Linked DNA regions of Homo sapiens: region 2 is linked to region 1. Evidence: fine-mapped expression QTL. A gene starts in region 1. The other region holds a variant in brackets. All regions are shown on one strand. Distances are from middle to middle. Region 1 holds the start of GNL3 (G protein nucleolar 3). Region 2 overlaps PBRM1 (polybromo 1).

What was found. PIP is the estimated chance that this variant, and not a neighbour inherited with it, causes the effect. A credible set is the group of variants that fine-mapping cannot tell apart.
Region 2: its variant is the best candidate, but not a certain one, in a credible set for the expression of GNL3 in whole blood (INTERVAL, PIP 0.77).

Annotation. Positions count from the first base shown.
Region 1 is chr3:52,682,854-52,688,232 of GRCh38, forward strand. GNL3 (G protein nucleolar 3) reads left to right here and starts at 3,179. Exons shown (of 15, transcript NM_014366.5): 1 at 3,179-3,252; 2 at 3,916-3,974; 3 at 4,393-4,530; 4 at 4,649-4,762; 5 at 5,256-5,339. The coding sequence starts at 3,240. It overlaps PBRM1 (polybromo 1), which reads right to left and starts at 3,060. Exons shown (of 32, transcript NM_001405607.1): 1 at 2,896-3,060. RefSeq lists silencers at 2,647-2,796, 2,867-3,016 and enhancers at 2,654-3,342, 3,337-3,406.
Region 2 is chr3:52,656,446-52,661,824 of GRCh38, forward strand. It overlaps PBRM1 (polybromo 1), which reads right to left. Exons shown (of 32, transcript NM_001405607.1): 6 at 1,754-1,870. Among named protein-coding and RNA genes, the nearest start is that of PBRM1, 27 kb to the right of the region's middle. The variant G/C (reference allele first, on the strand shown) is at 2,905.

The sequences.
Region 1 (5,379 bases):
GTTCGAGACCAGACTGGCCAACGTGGTGAAACCCTGTCTCTACTAAAGAAAAATACAAAAATTTAGCTGGGTGCGGTGGCTCATGTCTGTAATCCCAGCGCTTTGGGAGGCTAAGGCGGATGGATCACCTGAGGTCAGGAGATCAAGACCATCCTGGCTAACACGGTGAAACCCCGTCTCCACTAAAAATACAAAAAAAATTGGCTGGGCTTGGTGGCACGCACCTGTAATCCCAGCTACTTGGGAGACTGAGGCAGGAGAATCGCTTGAACCCGGGAGGCGGAGGTTGCAGTGAGCCGAGATGGCACCACTGCACTCCACCCTGGACGTCAGAGCAAGACTCTGTCTCAAAAAAATAATAAAAAAAAAAATTAGCTGGCTGAGGCAGTGCATGCCTGTAAACCCAGTTACTTGGGAGGCTGAAGCATGAGAATTGCTTGAACCCAGGAGGCAGAGGTTGCAGCAAGCCGAGATCATACCACTGCACTCCAGTCTGGGTGACAGAGCGAGACCGTCTCAAGAAAAAAAAAAAAACAACATAAAGTGAAATCACTTCTGCATGTTCCCCAGGCACAGGAACAGCATATTCATTTTTGTAGACCTGTCTTACAGGATAGTATTTGGTATAGGTTATGTGCTCAGTTTATCTTTTAATAAATGTATTAAAAGTGCACTTAGGGCCAGGCACAGTGGCTCATGCCTGTAATCCCAGCAATTTAGGAGGCTGAGGTGGGCAGATCACCTGAGGTCAGGAGTTCAAGACCAGCCTGGCCAACACGGTGAAACCCCGTCTCTATCAAAAATACAAAAAATTATCTAGGCAAGGTGGTGGCATGCACCTGTAATCCCAGGCACTCGAGAGGGTGAGGCACGAGAATTGCTTGAACCAGAGAGGCAGAGATTGCAGTGAGCTGGGATTGCGCCACTGCACTCCAGGCTGGGGGACAGAGTAAGACTGTCTCCAAAAAAAACAAAAAAAAAGTGCACTTGAGACCTTCAAAAAAAAAAGTTTATTTGTATAGTTTAAAAGTCCTCAGCCAGGCACAGGGGCTCATATCTGTAGTCCCAGCACTTGGAGAGGCTGAGGCAGGATGACCGCTTGAGGCAGAGAGTTCAAGACCAGACTGGATAACATAGATTGATCTTTTCTCTACAAAAATTAAAATTAGCTGGGTGTGGTGCTGCACATCAGTAATCCCAGCTACTTGGGATGCTGAGGTGAGAGGACTGCTTGAGCCTAGGAGCACAAGGCTTCAGTGAGCCATGATCACTTTACTGAACTCCAGCCTGGGCAACAAAGTCAGACCTTGTCTCAAAAAAAAAAAAAAAAAAAAAAAAAAAATGCCTGTAAGCATCCCTTCAGCAATTTTGTCTTTCCATGAAGAGGAAAGACAGATTCCAGAGTTCAATGCCAAGTTTTAAAATGGCCTTGATTACAGTTACAAGTTCAAAAGTCTAACAATCAATAATTTATAGTGGACAGTTAAGAATACTTAATAATGTGCAACTGGGAGAATATCGACTTACTATAGACAAACAGTGTATTTCGACCGTTTATGAACTTTAGCCCTCTCCTATATTTCTAGTAATATTTAGCAATACAATACATGTTTAAAACAAAATCTTGGAAAACAGGACTCAAAGGAAAAAAAACACCTATAAACCTACTTCCAAGAAAAAAACCACTCTTAACGTTGTCATTCGGTTTTTGGTATTTATGCCTTAGTTACCTATTATTTTTTACCAAAATGTTAACAAACCACATATATTATTCTACAGCCTGTGTTTTAGTGAAGGTTCTTCCAAGTCAACATTCTTCCTCATGATGTTTGATGACTTGATAGTAATCTATCATATAGATACACCACAATTTACTTATCTTGGGAATTTTGGTAGGATATTAACATTTGAGGTATTTTGTACATTCCCAAAGCCAAAGAAAGCGGTCAAGGCCCTTCCATTCATCCACACATAAACTCTTTATTGTTTTAATTTGAAACACCTCTTCAAAACATATTTTCCAATCTTCCATTTTGGAGCTCAAAATCAAATATGGGCGACCTGTAAGTAATAAAGCAAAAATTATGCTACTCTTTTATGTGCATGAGTCCAATTTGCACTTTTTGGGGAAAAGCACATAGCCAAATGGAGAAAAAAATAATACCTAAAATTATTTGTCAAGAATCCTGTGTTGGAAAGTAAGTTAATTAAAACAATTCACCCCAACATACGCTTCTATAATTATTGTAAGAATTTCTATATCCACTATACCGTGTACTTATTTTTCAGGGCTTTTTCTATATTTTTGCAACTCTTTCTTCCCCTTTAAATTAAAACTTATTATAATAACAAAACTGTGCTTCCCCAAACCAAGAAATATACACAGTTCCCAAAATCCCGGATTCTTTGTGGTGTTGAGAAGCTGAAATATCTGGCCTCTACTATAAATACAAGTCCCATTGATTAAAATACCCGGAAAAAATACGGAAAGAAAATCACTAAGAGTTTGTGTCGAACCGTCAAGAAACCACAACAAAAAAAAGAGGCCCTGAGCAACGGAGGAAATGAAGGACTTTCCCGACCTGTCACTGGTATTGGGGACTGAGGGAAACGTTGACAGCTTTGAAGCTGCCCCGCGACGAGCGGGAAAGAGGAGCGCGGGGAGTTTCCGACCCGTAGTGCGCCTTTGTCCCTGCCGGCAGGTGCGACAAGGCTACTGGGCCCATCCGGAGGCCAGCCGCCGCGCCCCGCCCAACCCCGCGCGCCCGGCCCGACCCGCGCGTCCCCACGGCCGGGGCGGGGCTTCCGCCGCGGCTCCCGCCCGCCCGGGCCCACACAAAGGCCCGGCAGCTGACCAAGGGGGAGCGGCCCCACCCGCCCTGGGCCCGGCCTTACCCAGCCGCTCCGCCGCCTGCAGCCCCGGCCGCGGTCACCGACCGCCGCGCCCCGCCCCGTGGCCGCCACGGCTGCTGCTATTGCTCCTCCGGCCGCGGCCGCTGCCGTCGCTTCGGCACCCGCCGCCCTCACCTCCCTTACCCCTCCCGGTGCCGCCGCAAAACCAGTCCCGCGGCCGCCAAGCGATCCCTGCTCCGCGCGACACTGCGTGCCCGCGCACGCAGAGAGGCGGTGACGCACTTTACGGCGGCAGCGTAAGTGCGTGACGCTCGTCAGTGGCTTCAGTTCACACGTGGCGCCAGCGGAGGCAGGTTGATGTGTTTGTGCTTCCTTCTACAGCCAATATGAAAAGGCCTAGTAAGTGGGGTCGGGAGGCGGGCGTGGAGGGACCCACGTCTGGAAGTTGCTGCAGCCACCACGACGCTCTTCTACGGCTACGGCTTTGTCTCTGCTGGTATGGGGGTGGGAGCCTACGCGTAGGCCTTGGCCCTATTTCCTGGTAGAACCGAGAGTTGGAAGTCCCTACGGCGATCATGTTAACCGCGCGGGCTCATTCTGCGGAACGAAGCCGGGCAGAGGGTGGGGAAGACTAGGCTAGATTTTCGTAAGGAAGCAGCGTCTGAGCCAGGTTTGAGGCCCAATATTTTCTTTCCGTGGCCACGTGCAGACTGGCCCAGGTGAGAGCTGAGAATCGCCTCCCAGACTCAGTGTTCCTCTCCTGCCTTATGATTCGTGCTGTTTGACACGAAGTGGTTGTCGTTTTGTGTCTCATACGCTGTTGTGTATGATCCCATTCTAATATTGTGAGGGTAAGTGCAGGGAATTTTGACTCCATTCTGGATCTACTGAATTTAATTCTCTGGGATTTGAAAGTAGCACGTATGTTTGCATTAGGCATTTCGCATTAGACTTAACGTTAGGTTTGGTAGCCAATAACACAAGAAAAGGATATAACTCCATAGTGCGTTAACCCAGAACTAATCATTTGGGTTAACAGATTTGTGATGTGTTTCTTTGTAGAGTTAAAGAAAGCAAGTAAACGCATGACCTGCCATAAGCGGTATAAAATCCAAAAAAAGGTAAGTGTAGTGCTTGAGAGAGCTGTACCAAACACATTGCTAAACTGATTTTGCCCTGTTCCTTTGCGGGAAAGTCTGGGTTAATGTGATTTGGTTTTGGGAAATGGCATTGGATAGACTGACCATGGGCACAAGCTCTTAGGCATCAGGAGTGCAGCTGTGAGAAAGTGCAGTGATTTGGTGATAAGTCTCTAAATTTGTTCAGCATGTTAATCTCTGCATAGAGAGCCTTCTAGTTACAATTTCTTGCTGTTTTATACTTACATATGCATTACTTTGTAAGATTCCAATTAAAGCTCCATTTTCCTAGGACATTTTATAGGCATAACTAAATTGCAGCCAGATTGGTTTCTCACTTGAATTCTGCTTAAGTATAAAGATATTTTTGTAAGCAGACAAAATCTCTTTATTTTAATAGGTTCGAGAACATCATCGAAAATTAAGAAAGGAGGCTAAAAAGCGGGGTCACAAGAAGCCTAGGAAAGACCCAGGAGTTCCAAACAGTGCTCCCTTTAAGGAGGCTCTTCTTAGGGAAGCTGAGCTAAGGAAACAGAGGGTAAGTTATGTTAGCCAGAATTTTCATTGAGTGGTGTAGTGTGTTATGTGTGATATTTTTCAGAGTAAGGTAACAACACTAGTCACTGGTTCACCTATTTCCCTTATGGCTCTGACAGCTTGAAGAACTAAAACAGCAGCAGAAACTTGACAGGCAGAAGGAACTAGAAAAGAAAAGAAAACTTGAAACTAATCCTGATATTAAGCCATCAAATGTGGAACCTATGGAAAAGGTATGATTAGGTCTCTTTATGAATGAGAGATCAGGGGTTTTGATTTTGGTTTTTTTGCTTGGGCCTGAGTGCAGTGGCACAATCACAACTCACTGCAACCTGGACCACCCAGGCTCAAGCAGTCTTACCACCTCAGTCTCCAAGTAGCTGGGACTACAGAAGCACACCATCACGCCTGGCTAATTTTTTTTAGCAGACACGGGCTTTCACTATATTGCCAAGGCTGGTCTCAAGTGATCCACCCAACTCAGCCTCCCGAAGTTTCTGGTATTACAGGTGTGGGCTGTTGTGCCTGGCTGAGAGATGAGTTCTGATGCAGAAATAAAAGCACATCCACAGGCTGCTGAGCTTCTTGGGAGGAAGACAACTGAGTTCAGACTCCATCTTACCTATTTAACAACTGCAAGGGCTGCTACTCAGCTGTGGAAAATGGAGTTAGAGGTTACAGTTGCTCTACTTCTAATTTTGTGTTATTTCCCCCTTTATCCTCTAGGAGTTTGGGCTTTGCAAAACTGAGAACAAAGCCAAGTCGGGCAAACAGAATTCAAAGAAGCTGTACTGCCAAGAACTTAAAAAGGTATCTTAGCCTAGGTCAGTGTCTGACAGTAGTAATGAGG
Region 2 (5,379 bases), 26 kb before region 1:
TTGAGGTCAGGAGTTTAAGATCAGCCTGGCCAACATGGTGAAAGCTTGTCTCTACTAAAAAATACAAAAATTAGCCAGGTGTGGTGGTGCATGCCTGTAATCCCAGCTACTTGGGAGGCTGAGGCAGGACAATCGCTTGAACTCGGGAGGCGGAGGTTGCAGTGAGCCAAGATCACGCCATTGCACTTCAGCCTGGGTGACAGAACGAGACTCCGTCTCAACAATTAATAAATAAATAAAAAAGATTTAGTTAAAGTGCTTATTTTATCAATGAAGAATTACCAATCTTGGAAACAACCCAATGTCCATTGACAGATGAATGAGTAAACAAAATGTAGTAAGGCACGGTGGCACAAGCCTGTATACCCAGCTACTTGGGAGGCTGAGGTGGGAGAATCGCTTGAGCCCAGAAGTTTGAGGTCAGCCTAGGCAACACAGCAAGACTCTATCTCTAAACAAAACAAAACACCCCAAAAAACTTATAAACAAAAGGTATTATATAGAAATAACAAAATGCTATTCGGTTCTAAAAAGGAATGAAATTCTGATTCAGGCTACAATATAGATGAATCCTGAACATATGCTAAGTGAAATAAGCAGTCACAGGACAAATATTGAATGATTCTTCTTCTATGACGTACCTAGAATAGTCAAATTCATAGACAGAAAGCAGAATGGTGGCTGCCAGAAGCTGGGAGAAGAGGGGAGTGGACTTGGTGTTTAATGGGTATGGAGTTTTGGTTTTGTAAGACTAAAAAGTTCCAGATAGTGGTGATGGTTGCATAAAAATGTGAATGTACTTAATGCCACAGAACTGTACACTTAAAAATGGCTAAAATGATAAATTTTATGATACATATCCTTTACCACAATAAGAAACAAATAAAAATAATTACCAATCAAAAAACAAAAAACGTAAAAATAAAAAAATAAAATCATAACCTTCTGATCATGTAAAATGATAGACCGTATACATTTTGTGCTGCTGTGAGGAGGATCTCTTGGGGGCCTCCAACATCTTCCTTTTATTTATTTATTTTTTGAGATGGACTCTTGCTCTGTCACCCAGGCTGGAGTGCAACGGCATGATGTCAGCTCACTGTAACTTCCACCTCCCAGGTTCAAGCAATTCTCCTGCCTCAGCCTCCCGAGTAGGTGGGATTACAGGCACACACCATCACACCAGGGTAGATTTTATACTTTTACTAGGGATGGGTTTTCACCACATTGGCCAGGCTGGTCTCAAACTCCTGACCTCAGGTGATCTGCCTGTCTTGGCCTCCCAAAGTGCTGGGATTACAGGCGTGAGCCACTGCGCCTGGCCCAACATCTTCCTTTTCTTTTTTTTTTTTTAAATTTGAGACGGAGTTTCGCTCTTGTTGCCCAGGCTGGAGTGCAATGGCGCAATCTTGGCTCACCCACTGCAACCTCTGCCTCCAGGGTTCAAGCAATTCTCCTACCTCACCCTCCCGAGTAGCTGGGATTATAGGCATGCGCCACCACACCCAGCTAATTTTTTGTATTTTTAGTAGAGATGGGGTTTCTCCATGTTGATCGGGATGGTCTCGAACTCCCAACCTCAGATGATCCACCTGCCTCGGCCTCCCAAAGTGCTGGGATTACAGGCATGAGCCACCACACCCGGCCCAACATCTTCCTTTTGAACTTACTTTATTTATCAGTAATTAATACAATTCTTGAAGTACTAAAAACAAAACACTGACATGTACCTGTTTTTAACTGCATCACTTACCACTTTAGAAGGCAGTTTCTGAAAAAGTTCGCTAATGAGACGTCCTGATGGATTTGTAGCTACAACTATGGCTTCAAGAAGCTGCTCCAGGATCTCCTTCAAGTAAGCTGGAGAAGACTGGTAATGTGGAGAAAAAAGTACTTTCTAAGAGAAATAATAAAATGCTGAATATTACATAGCTTCTAAAATTGTAGAGCTAATTCAAAACAGCAACTTTTTTTTTTTTTTTTGAGATGGAGAGGCTGGAGTACAGTGGCACAATTTCAGCTCACTGCAACCTCCACCTCCTGGGTTTAAGTAATTCTCCTGCCTCAGCCTCCCGAGTAGCTGGGATTATAGGCATGCGCCACCAGGCCCAGCTAAATTTTATTTTTTTAGTAGAGACGGGGTTTCACTATGTTGGCCAGGCTGGTCTCGAACTCCTCACCTCATGTCTGCCCACTTCGGCCTCTCAAAGTGCTGGGATTACAGGCATGAGCCACTGTGCCTGGCCAAAGAAAGCAACTTCTAAGCAGTACTTATTTTAACTCCAAATTTCAAGAATACCCCATAATGTTCTGATGCTGGACATAGGCATTGTATCCCTAGAACAACCTATATGAACCTAATGAGGTGCCTTATATTATTTTTGCAATGAAATCCCTTGTACTAGGTCCTTCTACTGAACCTTTTTCTACAGTAAATATTGCAATGGCAAAGTTTAAGTGCTACAAATGTGAAATGAGCAACTGAGCAGGAGAAAGCATGTCCCATAATAGTTCATTTCTATATCTGCTGTTCACATCTATTGAAGTCTTACAGGACAATGACTACTTACAGGACAATGACTACTTACATAGAGTTGGGACTACATACTTTTAACCACGGGGTGCTCTACCAAGTCTAACTGAATTCAAATTAAGTCAAAACTAAACAGCGATTAAGTACATCAATGTACACCATTTCTGTTCTTTAGACCCACTGGTTTATACCTAGCTTAGTCACTGTTTCAACATAGGAAGTATATGCCCCAAAGAGTACTTGACCAGGGAGGGTCCAAGTCTGAAGCAAGTTTCTAGAATAAGCAATGGAATGTCTCAGTCAAGGATTAAATTATGCTTCTAGTCCAAATCATTTTTTGTACATATAAAATAAAGAGTAATTTTTTTTCT[G/C]GTTTAAATCATAAAAGTACTGGTATTGTGTCCTAATCCAACAGAAGCTCTTTTTATTTAGTATAGTCTCAATTTTAAGGTGCAACACTTTTTTTTCCTCCCCACTCTGTTGCCCAGGTTGGAGTGAAGTGGTGTGACCATGGCTCACTGCAGCCTCTAACTCCAGGGCTCAAGCAATCCTCCCACATCAGTTTTTCAAGTAGCTGGGACCACAGATGTGTACCACCATGCTTGGCTAATTTTTTTACTTTTTGTAGACATGGGCGTCTCACTACATTGCCCAGGCTGGTCTCAAACACTTGGGCTCAAGTGATCCTCCAGTCTCAGCTTCCTAAAGTGTTGGGATTGCAGGCGTGAGCCACCGCACCAGACCCAAGAAAATCATCCTTGATTTAAAAATTAGAAACCTGAAAATTTCTTCTCCCTCCATGAGAATCATTGAGTTATAAAGAGTCTTGGGGTCTGGCATGGTGGCTCATGCCTGTAATCCCAAGCACTTTGGGAAGGTGAAGTGGGAGGATCACCTGAGGTCAAGAGTTCGAGACCAGTCTGGCCAACATGGTGAAACCTCACTTATACTAAAAATACAAAAATTAGCTGGTGTGGTGACAGGCATCTGCAATCGCAGCTACTCAGGAGGCTGAGGCAGAAGAATCGTTTGAACCCAAGAGGTGGAGGTTGCAGTGAGCTGTGATCGTGCCATTGCACTCCAGCCTGGGCCAAAGAGCAAGACACTGTCTCAAAAAAACAAAATTTGAAAGAGGCTTGGGAGGTATAAATGTGAATGTACAAGACCCTCCCAATTTCTCATCAATTATGCGTTACAGAAGTACGGGCAAGTCCTAAATACAGGCATTTTAATCTTTTGACTAGAGCCCTGAAGGCCTACACTAAGGGTGGGGCCTCTGCAAGCAGTGTTCTACCGAAGAAAGCATGGGCTGCTTCTCCTGTATTCATATTAGAGAGTAAAATTCCAGGAAATTCCTATTTTTAGCCTTCTATTTAGTTCCAATCACTTAACTACTTAAAGAAACTGACAAGCTGCTGAGGAACTATATACATATATTTACATATCATATATAAAATATAAAATTTTATACATATAAAATATATGAACTACATGTATATGTGTGTATATATATTTTGTGTATATCTATCTATCTATCTATCTATATTTTTTTTAGACAGAGTCTCATTCTAAGACCCAGGCTAGAGTACAGTGGCATGATCTCAGCTCATTGCAACCTCTGCCTCCCGGGTTCAAGCGATTCTCCTGCCTCAGCCTCCCGAGTAGCAGGGATTACAGGTGCCCACCACCATGCCCAGCTAATTTTTGTATTTTTAGTAGAAATGGGGTTTCACCATGTTGGCCAGGCTGGTCTCAAACTCCTGACCTCAGGTGATCTGCCTGCCTTGGCCTCCCAAAGTGCTGGGATTACAGGGGTGAGCCACAGCACCTGACTAGGAACTGTATTTTGAGACTCTAAGAAGTAATTGTATTTTTGAGAAATTCACCCATCACTGCTTCTCTGTATTCCAGCAAAAGGCCTATGTAGATAAGTTACAGAAGAAAGGGGAATATTCTGCAATGTGCTTCTCACAATTTAGCTGTAGAAAAGAGTTGTGATCCCCTCTACTATTCTTTTTTCTCTTTTCAAACATGTCTTTTTATTTTCTGTCTTTCATTTTTTTTTGAGATGGAGTCTCATTCTGTCGCCCAGTCTGGAGTACAGTGGCGCCATCTCGGCTCACTGCACCCTCCACCTCCTGGGTTCAAGCGATTATCCTGCCTCAGCCTCCAGAGTAGCTGGGATTACAGGCATGTGCCACCTGCCTAGCTAATTTTTGTATTTTTGGTAGAGACAGGGTTTTACCATGTTGGTCAGGCTGTTCTTGAACTCCTAACCTCAAGTGATCCTCCCGCCTTGGCCTCCCAAAGTGCTGGGATTACAGGTGTGAGCCACCTCGCCTGGCCATGAAGCATGTGTCTTTATTTAGTAAATATTTATCAGCACCTACATGTCAGGTATAGTGCAGATATGAGGAATAAATGAACAAAAAGATACCTGCTTAGGAGCTATCATTCTACTTGGGGAAAGAGAGAAAAACATGTAAACTAGTATGTTATTTCACATATAGTGACATTATAAAAACTGAAGACAACCCTGTGATGACAGGGTGGGGTAGGGGCTGAAAAGGAGGAAGGCGGAGCAAACAATGGAGATAGGGTGGTCAGGAAAGTCCTGTCTCAGTAGACACCATTTTAGATGGTGTTAGAACAATAAAAAAGAGCCAGTCACGGGAAAAGTCAAAGGAAGCACTTTCTATGCAGAAGAACAACTGCAAAATTCCAGAGGCAGAAACACACCTGGGAGGTTCTAGGAACAGTAACTATTCTAACCTACAGAAATATTCCTCACTAAGGTGATTACATTCCAACTTCTAATCACAACACTGCCTTTCCTTACATGATGT